Linked DNA regions of Homo sapiens: region 2 is linked to region 1. The links come from fine-mapping of genetic effects on gene expression. A gene starts in region 1. The other region holds a variant in brackets. All regions are shown on one strand. Distances are from middle to middle.

Region 1 (8,000 bases):
CCCTACATTGCCCTGGGACTCTGCTCCCCAAATTCTGGCACAGCACCCCACAGTTTGACCCACCATTCTGGAAGGTATAAGCTGCAAACCTTGGTGGCATGCATGTAGTGCTGACTCTGCAGACATGCAGAATGTACAAGCTGTGGGGCCATGGTGGCCTCCACCTAGATTTCAAAGGATGACTTGGACCGGCTAGGGGCTCAGGCAGACACTTGTCACAGAGGTGAGGCATGGGAGCCGGGGAGCCCCGATCCCCCAGAACTGTAGGGTCACTAGTGTGCAACTCCAACCTGGGAAAGCTGCAGGCATGAGACTCCAACCTCTGAGAGCTGCTGGGTGGACTGATCCCAGCAAAGCCATAGGGGAGGGGCTGCCTGAGGTCTTGAGGGGTCCAAGCCCCACTCCAGTGTGCCCAGATCGCAGGACAGGGAGTCAGAGGAGATTATTCACCAGTTTTAAGACTTAATGTTTTTTTTCCATTGATATAGTTTGGGTATTTGTCCCCTCCAAATCTCATGTTGAAGTGTAATCTCCAATGTTGGAGGCGAGGCCTAGTGGGAGGTGTTTGAATCATGGGGGTGGATCCCTAATGAATGGCTTAGTGCCATCCCCTTGGTGACCAATGAGTTCACTTGCGATCTGGTTATTTAAAAGTATAGGGCACCTCCCTGCTTTTTCTCTTGCTCGCACTCTCACCATGTGAGACATTTGCTCTCCCTTGTCCTTCCAACGTGATTGGAAACTTGCTGAGGCCCTCACCAGAAGCAGATGCTAGCACCATGTTTCTTGCACTGTCTGCAGAACCATGAGTGAATTAAATTTCTTTTCTTTTCTTTTTTTGAGACCGGTCTCACTGTGTTGCTCAGGCTGGAGCACAGTGGCAAGATCATAGCTCACTGCAGCCTCCATCACCCAGGCTCAAGTGATCCTCCTGCCTCAGCCTCCTGAGTAACAGGGACTACAGGCACACACCATCACACCCAGCTAATTTTTTTTTTTTTTTTTTTTTTTAGTAGAGATGAGGTCTCACTATATTGCCCAGGATGGTCTTAAACTCCTGAGCTCAAGCAATCCTCCTGCCTCAGCCTCCCAAAGTGCTGGGATTACAGGCGTGAGCCACCACACCGGCCTGTCTTTTCTTTATAAATTACCCAGCCTCGGGTATTTATTTGTGGCAATGCAAAAACAGCCTAACACATGCATGTTGGGTTCTAGATGTAGCTGGAACCAGTTACCCCTTTCTTCCTGCCTCTCTCTCCCTTTTGGAATGAAAATATCTCTCCTATGCCTGCCCCACCATTGTCTTTTGGGAGTAGATAGCCTGTTTTGATTTCACAGGTTCACAGCTGGAAAGGAGTCTGCCTCAGGCCAGCTATGCCTGCCTTGGAGTCTTAGCTTTATCTGATTTAGATGGGACTCTGGATTTGAACTTTTCAGTTGGTGCTGGAAGAGTTAAGCCTTTGGGGACTATTGGGATGGAATGAATGTATTTCACATGTGAGAAAGGCATGAATTTGGGGGGCTAAGACAGAATGCTATGGTTTGAATGTGTCCCCTAAAGTCCATGTGTTGGAAACTTAATCCCCAATGAAACAGTGTTGAAAGATGGGAGGGACTTTTAAGAGGTGAGGAGGTATGATGGCTTTGCCCTCATGAATGGATTAATGCTGTGATCTCTAGAGTGGGTTAGTTATCTTGAGAGTGGGTTCCTGAAAAAACAATGAGTTTGAACCCCTTCCTCTCTCTCCACCCCCACCTCTCTCTCTTTTCTTTCCCTATCTTCTCATTCTTTTGCCCCTCCACCTCTGCCATGGGAAGACACAGCAAGAAAACCCTCGCCAGATGCGAGCATCTTGATATCAGACTTCCCAGCCTCTAGAATTCTGAAAAATAAATTTCTTTTCTTTATCAGTTACCCAGTCTATGGTATTCTGTTATAGCAACACAAATGGACTAAGACAACTAATTTTCAGTTTTCAAATGCGCATCCCATCAAGTCCTTAAGTTTTATACAGTCCACATTTAATTTCTGCTGCAACAAGACTGTCTGATGAGTAGCAAAAACTGAAGGACAGTGTTCAATGTTAAGGCCATGCAGACTAATATAGATAACCTGAACAGAAAAAGAGATATTTTACACAGTGATGAGATGGTTTCATTTTTGCACACATGAGCAAATGCAACACATTCTCTGTGACAACTTTGGTTTGAAAGTTCTATCCTGCACCAGTCCTAGAACAATTTCCACTGGTCCAGGATGTCAATGCTCAGACACAGTACTGCATGGAATCAGGTGCAGGATTGAGAACAGGGCATGCTTTAGAAAAAGCAAAAGCTATTTCCAGGACTATCTGCTATGCTGGTTCAGCTTTGCCAAGCAATATTCAAATACTCATGGAGCAGCACATACTATGAGCAAAGTACTTAGTATTGTAGAAATGCAAAAGAAGAAGAAGAGGAAGAAAAGCTTAAACTGTTTATAATCCCCAAAGAAGTTTACAATCTGCTTAGAAAAATTATTTTACTATGCAAACAGCTGAGCCTGGCTGAAGCATCTGTTTGGGAGAGGAATGGAGAGAAGACTGGGAAGTCCACAGTTAGATTGTGTGGGGCAGGACAGAGCACCCAAGATTTACCGCATAGGGCACATCTGGGCAGTGTGAGGATGTCTAACAAAAAAGCCTAGAGATGCTCGGCGCGGTGGCTCACGCCTGTAATCCCAGCACTTTGGGAGGCTGAGGCAGGTGGATCACCTGAGGTCAGGAGCTCCAGACCAGCCTGGCCAACATGGTGAAACCCAGCTCTACTAAAAATACAAAACCTAGCCAGGCATGGTGGTGCGGGCCTGTAATCCCAGCGACTCGGGAAGCTGAGGCAGGAGAATCACTTGAACCCGGGAGGCAGAGGTTGCAATGAGCTGAGATCACACCACCACACTCCAGCCTGGGCAACAGAGCCAGACTTAGTCAAAATAAATAAATAAATAAATAAATAAATAAATAAATAAATAAATTTAAAAAGCCTAGAGATTTCTGTGTCTCTCCACTCTCCAAGTTCAAGGCCATTTCAGGGGCCTCCCCAAAGTTTTTAAAACTTGACTTGGGCAAATTCTTTAAGAACCTTGTTCTCCTCAAATAAAATATTTTGGAAAGCGGATTTTTATGAAGTCTTGGCTCAAATTCCATGACCTTTAACAGACATCTTAATTGTTTCGTGGGAGAATATGACCCAACAAGTGGCATATGGTTTAGGTGGGGACGTTTAATTACCGAACAGTTTTGTAGAATAAGCAAGTCACACATCTTTTGTCCGATGCGTGACAGGTTTGAACCTGTAAAGCCAGGTGCCTAAATAGCTTCCAACGTTTCCACCCCACCAGCCCTTGCACCACTCCCTGTACTGGCCCTGAGCTTTCTAGTCTTGACTGAAAAGCGGGGAGGCAATGTGGTCTCTCCTGGTGCACTGTCCCGAGGAAGGCCTGCTCCGCTTCCCCGGAGGAGTCTTCAAAGGATGGAGGTAATTAATAAAAACAACCCCTGTACCTCCTCTAAGTGGTCATTAATTAATAAAGAACCTCCAGGCTCCTATAGGAGAGGTCTGTGCACCCCGCGGGCTATGAGAAGGCTGGATCACCCAGAAAGACTGAGGATGTGTCCTGGCAAAAACACAGCCTGCCCCTCACACTGCTCCCCACGGGTGCACTAGGGAGGAAGAGTTCCCTCGAGGGCCTGAGCAGGCGCCCCACACCTGCACCCGTGCAGAGGGGGCTGGGCCCGCCCTCTGCGCTCCCGAGGGAGAGCCCTACCCCCTGCATCCCCGGTACCCCGTTCCCTCCAAGGGCCGGAAAGAGGGCCCCGCGCACTGTGCACTTCTTAGGGGTCCCCCACCCTGCGCCCCCGCCACGGGAAAAAGGTCCCCGCTCTGCGCATCCGGCCCCGGAGGGACAGCCCCGGTCCTGCACTCCTTGCTCCTCAGGGGGACGGTCCGCGCCCAGCGGCTAGTGCGCCCCGGGTAGGTGGGGGCGGGGGGCTCGTCGAGTGACAGCGCTCGCCTCCCGCAGCCCGCCCGAGCCGCGTCAGGGCAGAGGCGGGGTGGGGCGCGGTTAAAAGGCGCAGCAGGTGGGAGCCGGGGCCTTCACCCGAAACCCGACGAGAGCCCGACAGCCGGCGGCGCCCGAGCCCGACCTGCCTGCCCAGCCGGAGCGAAGGGCGCCGCCCCGCGCAGAGCCCGCGCCAGGGCCGCCGGCCGCAGAGCAGGTAAGCGGGCGCGGACCGGCTGGGTCTTGCGGGGGGCGAGCGGGCGGTGCCACCTCGGCCCCCCAGCGGAGGAATTTCCTCCAAGAAAACAAAACAGGTGAGGTCGGCGGCTGGTCCCCACCTCGCCCCTGTCGCTCCTGTCTGGCACCGGATCAGAGCCGGCAGAGCGCGGCCGGGATGGGTGTCTGGCCGCACGTGGGGCGACCGGGCCCCCGATCTGCCTCTATCCGCACCCTCCTGTCCACGCGCCCCGGCCCCGGCCCGATGGCAGTGGGCGCCGCCCGCGCTGGACCCTCTCTCTGTACGCAGAGGAACGAGGATGGACTGGTTTGACTTTTACCCCAGCGTGGTCCCCTTTGACTTGTACAACAGGTTTTATGAAGGTTTCATATCGTGTGTCTAAGAGGCCAGAGTGAGGGCCGGTGCCCCTTTCCCCCGTTTCATTTGCTGCGTGTTGGATTTTCTAAGCTTTTGTGGGTCACCGGGGTGTCCCCTTGGATTTGGGGAGAAGAAAGCCAGGTCTAGGATGCGGGTTTCAGTTCAGACAAACCCTCAACTTGGGCCGATGCATAAGTCCCCGGAGAACCGCAGGGTATGGGCTGCGTGATGGGCTTCCGAGAAACTTGTGAAATGCTGATGACAATAGCGTGGACGACAGTAATTAAAAGTAATTGGCGACACATCTTAGTTAAAACGTGCAGGCACCAGAAGGCACTTCCTGTCGGTGAAGAAGACCTGTCTCCGGTGTCACGGGCATCCTGTGTTTTGCAAACGGGGCTGACCTCCCTTCCTGGGGAGCAGGAAGGGTCAGGGTGAGTGTGGCCTGCCCGCAGCTCTGCACTCCCGGAGGGGTTAGGGACCTGCAACCAGGCGGGGACACTGGCCCAGCGACCTCAGTGTCCCCTGGGTGGGCGTGCACTCTGTTTAGTGTCTGATTGAACGTAACCGTGCCGGGTTGTTCTTTTCCCTCAAGTAGACTTTATGCCATACAGCTATTTTCTTGCCCCAGTTCTAGCAGAATCTAACCAGTGTTCTAGAAGAAAATGTCCTGCCCCCATGCAGTCTCCTTAGAATTGCAGGGTGCTGCTCAGAACTGCTCCTGTGGAGAGCTTTGTCTGTTGTTTGGATCCAGCAGCGTCTTTGGGGGTGTTGCTTGAAGCTTGCCAAGGAGGAGAGGGGGGTTCTGAAGAGAGAACACCAGGGCTCTAGCCTGTCACATAACTGGGGGTGTGGAGAGCGCCTCATTGCCACTGCAGTGACTAAAGCTGGGAAGACGCTGGTCAGTTCACCTGCCCCACTGGTTGTTTTTTAAACAAATTCTGATACAGGTAATGATGACTTTATGCTTTTTTTCTTATGTCTTCTCTTCTGAATTCTGAGTGTTAGGAAGGAAAAGAAGTACAGAAGATCTGGCTAAACAATTTCTGTATGGCGAAAGAAAAATTCTAACTTGTACGCCCTCTTCATGCATCTTTAATTCAATTTGAATATTCCAGGTGCTGTGAGCAGTTTGCATATATTAGTTTAAATGTTAAATGGGATAAAATTGTGGGAAAGTGATTTCTGACCCAAGCTTCTTGGTCTGTGAGGGCATAACCTTCTAATGGCCACCTGCCATAGGTTATGATTTCTGTTTTAGTTGCTTAGTGCATGAGCATAGACCTGGAACCCCAGAGGGCCTGCTCCATTTTTATTCCCAGGGTCATTTAAATCTAGTTGAGCTTAAATGTTTGGAAAGGACACAGGTTTGCTTGAATGAACAAACATATATTGCTAACAAGACCCAGAGAAGGAAAGTTTAACTTAATGGAAATTAATTTTTAACTCTTTGAATTCTTAAATGATGTAAGAAACATACGTAATTGCATGAGTTTTCCATTTTTACATCTAGACTCCACAGACAGAAACGTTTCATTTTTATTGAGTTAATTTTGAAATATATGAATCCCTGACCCATTGTTATCACTAGCTGTTACTCTATCAGGACAGTTGCTGAAGTTTTTTGTCACTAAATTTAAAAATCAACTATCAGGTTGTCCCTTGGATGACCTGAGATTTCTAGAGACAAAAGAAATCTATTCTTCCTGATTGAAGAAAGAGTCTGAGATTTTTTTTAAACCACTGATTTGGGGATCAGGGTGTAGCCAGTGTCTCAAACTCTCCCCTGTCCCTTTTTGTTTTGCTCAAGGAGTGGGCTTGAGGCCTCAGATTGGGTGTTACTGTTATTTTGATAGGGAAAGGATCCTACTAAAGAGCACCTTTGATTATTTTGTGTGTTCAAAGCATAGAGCATCAGGAAGCTGGCAATTTCTGAACTTACCTCATAACAGTTCTGGGAATGAAGAAAAACTACCCACAAAGTTTATTCAGGGGACATATTGCGGGGGGCGGGGGGGGGGGGAGTTAAAGGAATATGGCAACAGCTACTATTTTTCCCTCAACAGGCGACATCCTCACTGACCGAGCAAAGATTGACATTCGTATCATCACTGTGCACCATTGGCTTCTAGGCACTCCAGTGGGGTAGGAGAAGGAGGTCTGAAACCCTCGCAGAGGGATCTTGCCCTCATTCTTTGGGTCTGAAACACTGGCAGTCGTTGGAAACAGGACTCAGGTTTGCTTGTTTTGCTTTGATATTGTTTTCCTTTTATCTATGCAGACTCCCCGACTATCCAAAGCTAACTTCGAAATTGGGAGGCACATGTTCCTGTTCTCAGATCTATCAACTACTCCCTAGATGGCCAGGCGCGATGGCTCATGCCTGTAATCCCAACACTTTGGGAGGCCGAGGCTGAGGTCAGGAGTTCAAGACCAGCCTGACCAAGGTGGCAAAACCCTGTCACTACTAAAAAAAAAAAAAAAAAAAAAAAAAAAAAAATTAACCAGGTATGGTGGCATATGCCTGTAGTCCCAGCTATTCAGGAGGCTGAAGCACAAGAATCACTAGAACCGGGGAGGCAGATGTTGCAGTGAGCTGAGATTGCACCATTGCACTCCACCCTGGGCAACAGGGCAAGACTCTGTCTAAAAAAAAAAAAAAAAATTTTTTTTTTTTTTTTTTTTTTTTTTTGCTAAATGACATTGAAAGGGGAACAGAGCTATCTAGAAAAATATGCTGAGGGGTTACACTCTAACTTTGGGGGCTTTAGTTTTGGTTCTGTCATTAGTGAAATTATAATGGCATAGATAAATAAGCTAGTTGTGATTAATTTCCTAAGAAGTTTTAAAACAATCAAGAAATTTCATTAGTGCAGTCAAATGCCAATAGATCTAAATTATTTGAATTGTAAAAGGAAAGAACAACCTATCTTCACAATGCTGTGTGGATCCTCAAAAGTAAAGTCCATGGTTTACTTATTTTTAGAGCTAGATATTTCAGACTGGAGCTTTAGTATCAAGAATATAGCATGGGCCGGGCGCGGTGGCTCATGCTTGTAATCCCAGCACTTTGGGAGGCCAAGGGGGGCGGATCATGAGGTCAGGAGATCGAGACCATCCTGGCTAACACGGTGAAACCCCGTCTCTACTAAAAATACAAAAAATTAGCCGGGCTTGGTGGCAGGCGCCTGTAGTCCCAGCTGCTCAGAGAGGCTGAGGCGGGAGAACGGCGTGAACCCGGGAGGCGGAGCTTGCAGTGAGCCGAGATCGTGCCACGGTACTCCAGCTTGGGCAACAGAGCTAGACTCCATCTCAAAAAAAACAAAAAACAAAAACAAAAAACAAAAACAAACAAACAAGAAAAAA
Region 2 (11,009 bases), 28 kb before region 1:
TCCGCTCCTCTGTTCCTCCTGCCCAGGAGTCATGTATTGTGATGACCTGTGCTAACGATGACCATTCAGTCAACGGCAAGGTATTCAGAGGGCAAGGGACGGGAAGGCTGAGCCACAGAGAGTGCTGGGACTGTGCAGCATGGGAACCCGGAGACGACATGCCTGACAATCCCCTGAAAATCAAACTCCATAAAAGAGGACCCCAAAAATGTTCATTGTCATTTGAATTCCTCTTTCAAGAAGAGAAACATATCAATGGCAGCAAAAATCATCCGATAAATGCTGTATTTACTATACCATTAAAACTCCTTCTCAGAAGCAACCAAAGGAAAATTGTGGGTTTGTGTGTGTGTTGTTGTTTTGCTTGGAGTTTGTCTTGGAGTTGTTTGGAGGGGTCGTTTTTGCTTCTCTGATTTTTTGGAATAATGAATAACAGTTGGCAACAGAGAGTGTCAGCACTGCCCTGACACAGCAGTCAAGTTCTCAAACAATCTTCAGGAGCCTTCCAAAACTGGACATAAAAAAAAGTACCTTCATTGGGGAAAAGAAAAGAAAAAAAAAAGAATCACAATTGCCACCAAGGCTCTACATTTTTGCAAAAGTCCAGCATTTAAAAGAAACTTCCCTGGATGGCCTACATCTGCTGATTGGTAATTTGTCATTCAGGTTAAAAACAAAACAGAAGTGGGCATTGTTGTGATATCATCCTTGATAACATCCCAAGAAAACTCTAGAGCTGGCAGGAGAGGAAAGCAGATAATGGTCAAAGCTGTCATCTGAGTTTTAAAAACACTGTGATTTTTCTTTTAAAGGAACATCTTCAGTTTCCAAGGCCATACACACAGTTCCTAACTGCAGCTTCAAATTTTCCACCGGGCTCCCTTCTGAGAACAAACGCTATTCAGTGGCGAGCCCCGGACACCACTGCGCTTTCAAAGGCAGCTGCCAGAGGACACTCAGGACTTCACAGCCGCCGGTGAGCCAGACTGGGGTCAGTCACTCCCCCATCAGAATTATTTTGTTTCTCCTTTGCTTAAGAAAAGAAGAGTTCCTCAGACTGGCATCCCAGGTCTTCTACAATCATAATGGATCCTTCTAAGCTGATAGAAATAATATCTCATATGTATTAAGAACTTTAAAGTTAGTATGTTGCTGCAAAACTAATTGCGGTTTTTACCATTAAAAGTAATAGAAAAAAACCACAATTACTTTTGCACCAGCCTAATGACAAAATGCATGTGTTGTTTAGTCCTCCAAATAAGGCTCAAAGAAGCGATGTCACCCCCGCCTCCCAGATGAAGCCAATGCTTAGAGGAACCACTTGCATGCAACCCCATAGGTGACAGGGTGGAGCTCACCCACCCTGGGCTGGGGCTTTAGCCTGTGTCTTGGGGCTGTGGCTCCCACCACTGGGTGCTTCTCTCTGGCCTTCTCTAGAGCTGCCAGCACCTTCCTGAGCACCTGCGACTCATGCTCCAGGGAACCTCATTCCCACTTATCTTTGACATTTTGCCTGTGCTTTTCCTCTTCCTCAAAGCCTATCCACATCCCGCAGCCAGCAGGGTCTCCTCTGCTGATCCTCACACGCTGAGGTGTGGCCTCAGCCCTTGGGCTTCAGTTATCAGTGCAGTGGACAGAAAGGGAAGTGATCGACTCAGGTTTGGTTTAGAATCTCAGATCTTCCAATCATTAACCATGTGGCCTTGGGGAAGTTCCTTCTCGTCTCTGAACCTCCATTTCCTCACCCCTCAGAGGTGCCCAATCCTGAACTTACTCAGCACCAGCCCTGCAGGGCCTTCACAAGTACTCAGCGCAGCTCTTGATTGAGAGAAGTCTGATAAACACCCATGCACTGAGGCGTGTGGTTAGTATGAGCCTACACAGGTGCATTTATCTCTACTCCCATCTTAAATGCCAATTACACAATAGTGAAGAAAAAAGGTGTAAGTTCATAAAAACAGAGAAAATAAGAGAGGAAAGGAAAGTACATTGGAGGCGGGGAGACAGATCGGGTTTGAGGGTGATATGAAGACTTTATGTGCATAGAAGTTTAGTTCCACATTCCCCTCCTGAGGAAGTTCCTGGAAGGTGTGTGCTTCAGCAAAATGAAGGTAGAGACCAAGACAGGAAGACACGGACTCCAGAAAGCACAAGCTCTGGCCCAGGGGAAAGGCAAGGGGAGCCCAGGGGACCACTGGGCAGAGGGCCAGAGCACCCTGCCCAGACCACAGCCCCCGGGAAAAGGGAAAGAAACAGATGGAATAGATGGACTGTGCGGAACCATGTCTGGGAACTTGAAAAAATTGTTTCCGGGCATATGACAGATTTGTTGGAAGAGTAGGAAAAGCCGAACAATAGACACATAGAAAGCCAAGCAAATGAAAACCCCAGTCATGGTTCACTCTCAGGGAAGGGAGGCAATTGCAACCAAAAGAAAATGTAACATAGAATACAACTTGGTCCAGACGTCATTATGCTCGCAGTCAAAATAATATAAATAACAATATGTATTTGACCAGAGTATGAGCCATGATCATGTCATGAGGGTGAGGGAAGAGGTGTGGGTGGAGCAGGAGCAGTGGGGCTCAGGTCAGAGCTAAAGCCTCCACTACCATAGCAGAAAAAGTCAACAGGTCTAAAGTCCAGCAATCAGTAAATGGCATAATAAGCACATTATTTGGAAACATAAAGGTAAACGTCAGAAGAGCTCTAAAAAATGAAAGGCGTTGGTTGCCTCTGGGACAGCATACAGGGTGGGAGGAGCAGAGAATGGGGCAGAGGACTGAAATATTGCCTTGTAAACCTTTTAGTTCCACTTGAATTTTTAAGCTGTGTAAATGTATTCCTTTAACAAAAATTTGAAATTGTTAATATTTTATAGTTAATATCTAGTTAGTTAAAGAGTATGAAATACAATTAAAGCCTGTTTTTGTTGTTGTTGTTGTTTTTTTTTTTTTGAGATGGAGTTTCATTCTTGTTGCCCAAGCTGGAGTGCAATGGCACAATCTTAGCTCACAGCAACCTCCGCCTCTCGGGTTCAAGCGATTCTCCTGCCTCAGCCTCTCGAGTAGCTGGGATTACAGGCATGTGCCACCAAGCCTGGCTAAGTTTGTATTTTCAGTAGAGACGTAGTTTCACCATGTTGGTCAGGCTGGTCTCAAACTCCCAACCTCAGGTGATCTGCCCGCCTGGGCCTCCCAAAGTGCTGGGATTACAGGTGTGAGCCACCGCGCCCGGCCTAAAGCCTGTATTTTACAAATTTAAATAATGAAATGGTTTGCCAATATACTCACCAAGATCTGATCTTAAGTGAGACAGAACTGGGAAACAGAACCTTCAAGCTGAAAAGACCCTTAGACACCACCTACCACAATCCTGGAGAAGCACTGTTACTGCCAGTAGCATCTTGTAGCACCTGTTGACTCTGGAGACTTACTGGATTTGAAAGGCAAAACCTCTAAACACTTAAAATTTTAGCTATTAATGCTATTTTCATGATAGAGAAGAATTTAGGAAAACTCAGGAAGAAGGAAAAGTTTATTACCTCAAATAAATAAGCTGTTTAGATTGGTTCAAGCTGTTTGCTCACTTTTAAAGCATGTGATGGCTGGGCACAGTGGCTCATGCCTGTAATCTCAGCACTTTGGGAGGCTGAGGTGGGAGGATCGCTTGAGCCTAGGAATTTGAGACCAGCCTGGGAAAGATAGTGAGACCCCATCTCTACAAAAAATAAAAAATTTTTTTAAATTTAAAATAAAATTAAATAAAGCATGTGGCTTTGGGAAAGTTACTACAGTTTCTATACTAAGTTTTCTTCATTTATAAAATTAGGACAATCAAGTACCCCAAGATTGCTACAAAGACAGTAACAATATTCATCTTCTTTATTTTTTAACATATTGAGTTCCACAGTCAACTAGAATTGAATGAGGTTTAAGACTTTGATCCCACCCAAGAAAGAGCATATGGTTATAATGAAGGACCCAAAAGGACCGCATTTATGAGCAATTTTGATTGTATAAGAAAATTCTACAGTAGGCTGGGCATGGTGGCTCACGCCTGTAATCCCAGCCATTTGGGAGGCTGAGACGGGCAGATCACCTGAGGTCAGGAGTTCGAGACCAGCCCGGCCAACATGGTGAAACCCCGTCTCTACTAAAAATACAAAAATTAGCCAGGCGTGGCGGCATGCGCCTGTAGTCCCAGCTGCTCGGGAGGCTGAGGCAGGAGAATCGCTTGAACCCGGGAGACAGAAGTTGCAGTGATCCAAGATCGTACCACTGCACTCCAGTCTCGGCGACAAGAGCGAACTCCATCTCAAGAAAAAAAAAAAAAGAAAGAAAGAAAAGAAAAGAAAAAGAAAAAAAATAAAAGAAAGAAACTTCAATAGTACATTTCCCAGGGTCTGATAAAATGCTCGATCAAATGAAACCCAGTTGGATGTGGTTATCGGCATCGAGAGGAAAGAGTGGTAGAAGGAAGAATTCTTGTCCCTAAGGAACTTAGCATCCAGTTAAGGATACATAAAAGTATCAAACTCACTACAGAGCAGGCAGTTTGAGACCAGTGCCTTATGAATAACATAAAACACTGTAGGAGCTGGAGGGGAGAGAAGATGGTCTGCTGGAGCGAGTAGACTGGCCATCAGCTCCCACTGGGTGCTGGTTCCAAGACAGAGCTAGGACTCCAGTGCCCTTACTGGGATAGATTGTCCCCTCTCTGTTTCCTGGCCTGACATCACCATGTCATCAATCTGTTGTACAACTACAAAAGAGAACATCCAGATTTAAGTAGGGGCCATAATAAAGTGTGCATTTCGTGTTCACTTAAAACAGTGTCACTTAACTGCACGGCTGAGTCTCAACCCTGCTGGTCCTTCAACAACCCCGCCCTGGCCTTCCCATACACTGCACATCACCTCATTTGGTTGCCTACAATTGTTTTGCTTCTGGCAGTGGCTCCTAACACCAGTTTAAAGCAACATGAACAGCAGCTGCTGCCCATGCCTTCACTAATGTCATGAAACTCTGAGAAACCGTGAGATTTCAGGCTATGGCTATTTGCCATTTCATAACACAAAATACCAAATTCCGTGGGGCTGCATCTGCCTTATTCTCCACCATAACCTCTGTGCTTAGGACAGTCACTGGACATAGTAGAAACCTGACAAACCTTTGTTGAGTGGGTAAATGAATGGCTGTCAGCACACTTATTAAAAATTTTTCCACAAGAAGTAACAAACAACAAACTGTCTAATCATATAATAAATTCTATGCCTTGAAAAATGCATAGAACAATTTGGGGCTTCAAGCAAACATTTTAAAAAAGCTGATCTTAATCAGATTAAAAAATGAGCAAAAGATCTGAATAGACATTTTTCAAAAGAAGACATACAAATGGCCTACAGGTATATGAAAAAGTGCTCAATGTCACTAATCATCAGAGAAATGCAAATCAAAACTGCAGTGAGATTTCATCTCACCCCAGTTATAATGACTTTTATAAAAAACACAGGGAATAGGCCGGGCGCGGTGGCTCACGCCTGTAATCCCAGCACTTTGGGAGGCCAAGGCGGGCAGATCACGAGGTCAGGAGATGGAGACCATCCTGGCTAACACGGTGAAACCCCGTCTCTACTAAAAGTACAAAAAATTAGCCAGGCATGGTGGCACGTGCCTGTAGTCCCAGCTACTCGGGAGGCTGAGGCAGGAGAATGGAGTGAACCCAGGAGGCGGAGCTTGCAGTGAGCCGAGATCCTGCCACTGCACTCCAGCATGATGACAGAGCAAGACTCCATCTCAAAAAAAAAAAAAAAAAAAGACAGGCAATAACGAAGGTTGGCAAGTATTTGGAGAAAGCAGAGCCCTCATATACTGTTGGTGGGAATGTAAATTAGTACAACCACTATGGTGAACAATATGGTGGTTCCTAACAAAACTAAAAATAGAACTGCAATATGATCCAGAAATCTCACTACTGGACATTTATCCAAAAGAAAGGAAATCAATATATTGAAGAGACGTCTGCATTTTCATGTTTACTGCAGCACTATTCACAACAGCCAAAATATGGAATCAACCTAAGTGCCCATTAATAAATGGTTAAGGAAAATGTGGTGTATACATAATGGCATATTACTCAGCCATAAAAAAGAAGAAAGTCCTGTCATTTGCAGCAACATAGAGGGAACTGGAAGTCATCATGTTAAATGAAATAAGCCAAGCACAGAAAGACAAATATTGTATGTTCTTACTCAGATGTGGGATCCCATGAAAATAGAGAGTAAATTGCTGATTACCAGAGGCTAGGAAGAGCAGGAGTGGGGAGCACGAAGACAGGTTGATTAATGAGTACAAATATACAGTTTGCTAGAAGAAATAAGACATAGTGTTTGATAAATCAGTAGGGTGACTATAGTTTACAATCATTTATTGTATATTTCAAAAATAGTTAGAAGAGAATAATTCAAATGTTTCTAGCATGAAGAGAAGATGAATATTTAAGGTGATGGATATCCTAATTACCCCAATTTGATCTTTACAAATTAAATGAGTGTATTAACATGTACCCCCAAAATATTTACATCTATTATATATTAATAAAAAAAGAATCATTTGCATAAATATACACACTTGCACACAATCCATGACAATTTAATATCAACCACTTCTGGAATCAGCAATGCTGTCAGACATTGAACAGTGAAACTAATATGGGAATTCAAGGAAGCACATAATTCGTAAATAAATAAGATCTAAGGGACATTGGATGAGACAATAAAGACAGATTATAAACTGTAGAGTGGTGCTAACCCTGGATGTGGAGTTGAAGAATCAAAAATAAAAATAAGATAAAATAAAATAATAACTGATCTTATGAAAGTGAGAGGCTGAAATCAGCCACGTGAAAGAATCATTATAGGCTAGGCATGGTGGCTCACACCTGTAATCTCAGCACTTTGGGATGCCAAGGTGGGAGAATTGCTTGAGCCCAGGAATTTGAGAGCAGCCTGGGTAATGTAGTGAGACCCCCACCTCTACACGGTGGTGTGTGCCTGTAGTCCCAGCTACTTAGGATGCGGAGGTGGGAGGATGGCTTGAGTCCAGGAGGTCAAGGTTACAGTGAACCGTGATCACTCAAGCCACTGCACTCCAGCCTGGGCAACAGAGTGAGACTCTCTCTCTCTCTCTCTCCTCTCTCAAAAAAAAAAATCGTTATTATAAGAAAAACTGCAAAACTATTTGCATGAAATAAAAAGAAGGAAAATAATGAGCAACATAAGGTTAAAATAACATTGCAACCCCATGGAAGCAAGAGAAATGGAAATCATTAATAAATAGACAACATATAAGGGAACGCTGCTGTTCTGTTGTAGAGATTACAGAGAGCAATTTAGGAGAGCCAGGCACTGGGGCCAAGAGGGAAATGAAACAAAAAC[C/T]GAAGGGATTTGTTTAGGAAGAAAAATGAAAACAGATAAAAGGTGTTCATTTCAAAGCTTCCCTCTTTCCCAGCATTTTTCTGAAGTAGAGTTTGAAAAGAAAGCAAAATAACTGCAAACCAATACAGCGGCACGGAGTTCACTGACGCAGAGCTAGAAATGACGTTCAGAGATCCGCCAGCCCAGCCTCCTGTTCTGGGTCACCTGGCTCCTTGACAACCCTGAAAGCTGCCTGTGCAAATCCCCAGGCATGTTATACCCATGAGCAGGGACGCGTGGCACTGACAAAGGGACTCGTACACCTTTGAAGTATCCTGGGAGACCACGCTCATATTCCACACACGCTCAGGAGTCATTGAAGAGCCACACCGGAAATACGTGGCACGGTCTCATTCCATGTTTGACCAAAACCACTGTTTACCCAGCTCAGCCAATCACTTTATTTTGTTAACCAAACCTAATGCAGAATGATGTTCAGGTGTTTCCAAGGATCAAATCCACTCCCACTGGGAGAAGCTTCCTTCAAGAGCAGCTTCTGTAGCCCATGGAGCCAGGAGTCAGGAGACCCTATAAGTTCTGGCTCCATTTCTTACTATGGATAGGACCTAGGGTGAATCACTTTCCTGCTCTGAGATGTGCCTTTCTTAGGTGTAAGGGTTATAAGTGCTCTGCAGATCACATTAAATAATTGTGTGAACATGCTCTAAACACTCTAAACACACATTAGCATGTGTTCTGAAAATAGATAACTGTGATGTTATGTGCGCCTAAAGAGGGCAACTAAAAATAGAGGCATGGCCCCACTGCTTGAATGCCTGCTATCCTCATGACCCGCTTGTGTCAATGGACTGCAGCAAAGCCACCACAGAGGCAGCTCTGAACCTCTGCCTTGGGATCCAGCTGCCATGTAAGAAACTCAGGCTAAACCACCAAGTGCTGGGAGGCCATGAAGAGTTGACCCAGAACGAAGAGAAGGCACCCTGAAGTCCAGCCCAGTCCAGCTTCCAGCTGAGTTGAACAAGACACCTCATGTAAGAGCAGCAGAAACCACCCAGCTGAGCCCCACAAACCCACAGAATCACGAGAAATAATAAATTATGGCTTTTTAAACCAATAAGTTTTGAAATACTTGTTATACAGCAGCAGATAACTTAAACAATGACTCTAAAATAAAAGTTCTAAAACAATCTCCATTGCAGACAAACTCTGTACCTTTTTCATGGGAGGTTCTGAATAGGACAATCATCATTCTATTGTATAACGACTCCTTTGGTGTATGTGGATGAACCAATCAGTATTGTTGTTTTACTGGTCGGAAGAAGGAAGGAAAGAAAAGAAGGAAGGAAAGTACCCACTGGGCACTGGGATTGCTCAGATCTACCAACTTAAGTCACTTTTCCCAGTCCTCATCCCAAGCTCCACAAACATTTGACTCCTTACAAATGCAAACTAAGATTTTTGCTATCGTCTATTTTTTATTAATATTATGCTTTGCTCATATGGGCATTCACTGAAATAGTTACTCAGCTTACTATAGAAGAGAATGGAGAATAGTCCTGGAGATTTGAACTAAGCCTGTTAACTCCAAAGAAGCCAAAGACTTCTCATGCCAGATGCCATTTCTCCTTGCTCTCCCCAGAGCCGCCATCACACTCCGCCTGTATTACAACCTGGCTTAGAATGGGTCTGCTGCTTGGTTCTGTCATCCTCAGACTTCCCAAGTACCTGCTGTTCTTCTGCACTTGGCCACCCACCTTGTGTTCTCCACCCATCTTGAGCGGTCAGCTCCTGACACCATCTGCCATGCACAGTCCTGCTGATGAGATGCTAAGGAAATTATATGTGTGTGATAGAATGTCAGGATGCTGGTCAAGCTCTAGTTGCCCAGACAGGAGCAAGATGGAGCTGGTTCACAGTGAGCAGAACAAGGTGAGTAACAAGAGGGAAGGATGGCTGCTAATAAGAAACACCCTAAGGAGACTGAGTTTGGAGGCAGGCTGCCCTCTCACTGCTTTGTACATTTTAGGATGTATAAAAAAGTGCCAGCTGTCTAAACAGAGGAGTTACTATTTCCAGGTATAGAAATTCCCCAGGAGATAGTCTTTTTTGATGACGATCCTTATTCTTAAAATTTTGCTCCCTCCATCCATACCTGGGTCCACACTACATCACAGATAAGAGACCAAAAAGATCCAAGATTAGAAACACTTTGTAATCAGCATCATAGATGTGAATTTTGGGGACAGAATTAGTCACAAATGGTAAGTGGAACCTGACACTGCATTTCAGATGTGGTAAAAAGGCCAGACATTTATATCAGGAAGAGTTGATCTTCTCTAGAGAGTTCATTAAGAACAACCGGGTAGCCTCAAGTAGAAGTGAGATTTGGTGAGTGTCACCATACACTGCTTCATCTCTCCAGAGCTGTGGATCCCTTGGTGAATCTAATTAATGCTACAGACATGATCACTTAAAAAAATGGATATGAGGTCTGGGCACAGTGGCTCATGCCTGTAATCCCAGCACTTTGAGAGGCCTAGACGGGCAGATCACCTGAGGTCAAGAGTTTGAGAACAGCCTGGCCAACATGGTGAAACCCCATCTCTACCAAAAATACAAAAATTAGCCGGGTGTGGTGGTGGGCCCCTGTAGTCCCAGCTACTCCAGAGGCTGAGGCAGGGGAATCGCTTGAACCCAAGAGGTGGAGGTTTCAGTGAGCTGAGATCGGGCCACCATACTCCAGCCTGGGCGACAGAATGAGATCCCATCTCGAAAAAAATAATAATTTTTAAAAATACAAAAATTAGCCAGGCGTGGTGACAGGCACCTGTAATCCCACCTACTCAGGAGGCTGAGGCAGGAGAATCACTTGAACCCAGGAGAAGGAGGTTTCAGTGAGCCAAGATTGTGCCACTGCACTCCAACCTGGGCAACAGAGTGAGAATCCATCTTGAGAAAAAAAAAAGAAAGAAAGAAAACAGAAAAGAAAAATGCATATGAGCATAGAGACACAGACTGTATTTTTTTTTTTTTTTTGAGGTGGAATCTTGCTCTGTCACCCAGGCTGGAGTACAGTGGCGTGATCTTGGCTCACTGCAACCTCTGCCTCCCAGGTTCAAGCAATTCTCCTGCCTCAGCCTCACGGGTAGCTGGGACTACAGGCGTGCGCCATCATGCCTGGCTAATTTTTGTATTTTTAGTAGAGATGGGGGTTTCACCATGTTGACCAGGCTGGTATTGAACTCCTGACCTCAGGTGATCCACCCACCTTGGCCTCCCAAAGTGATGGGATTACAGGCGTGAGCCACCATGCCCGACCTGACATAGACTTTTATAAACAATTTCATGGAGCTCATGAGTAAGAAGTCCATCCTTGAGCCTTCACTGCCAGACCATGGATTCCAGATCAAGAATTGCTTGCATGATGACTCAAGTAAGGGGAAGATGGGGCTCCAGTCCTACCCAGCTCCGTGTGTGCTAGTTCTGCATCTTGGGCATGTCACCTAACGAATGTACTTTGGTCACCTCAACTGTAGAACAGGGATCACAACACTTGTATTTCAAGGATTGT

Alleles and levels. Alleles are on the strand shown, and positions count from the first base shown. SD is a standard deviation of normalised expression in the study named.
With allele C in place of T in region 2, the expression in thyroid of the gene that starts at base 4,131 in region 1 is lower (small effect, 0.26 SD a copy in GTEx).

What was found. PIP is the estimated chance that this variant, and not a neighbour inherited with it, causes the effect.
Region 2: its variant is the best candidate, but not a certain one, in a credible set for the expression of GJB6 in thyroid (GTEx, PIP 0.87).

What each region holds. Positions count from the first base shown.
Region 1 is chr13:20,228,450-20,236,449 of GRCh38, reverse strand. GJB6 (gap junction protein beta 6) reads left to right here and starts at 4,131. Exons shown (of 5, transcript NM_001110219.3): 1 at 4,131-4,256; 2 at 4,945-5,068; 3 at 5,643-5,752; 4 at 6,701-6,870.
Region 2 is chr13:20,255,206-20,266,214 of GRCh38, reverse strand. No RefSeq gene overlaps it. Among named protein-coding and RNA genes, the nearest start is that of GJB6, 28 kb to the right of the region's middle. The variant C/T (reference allele first, on the strand shown) is at 7,439.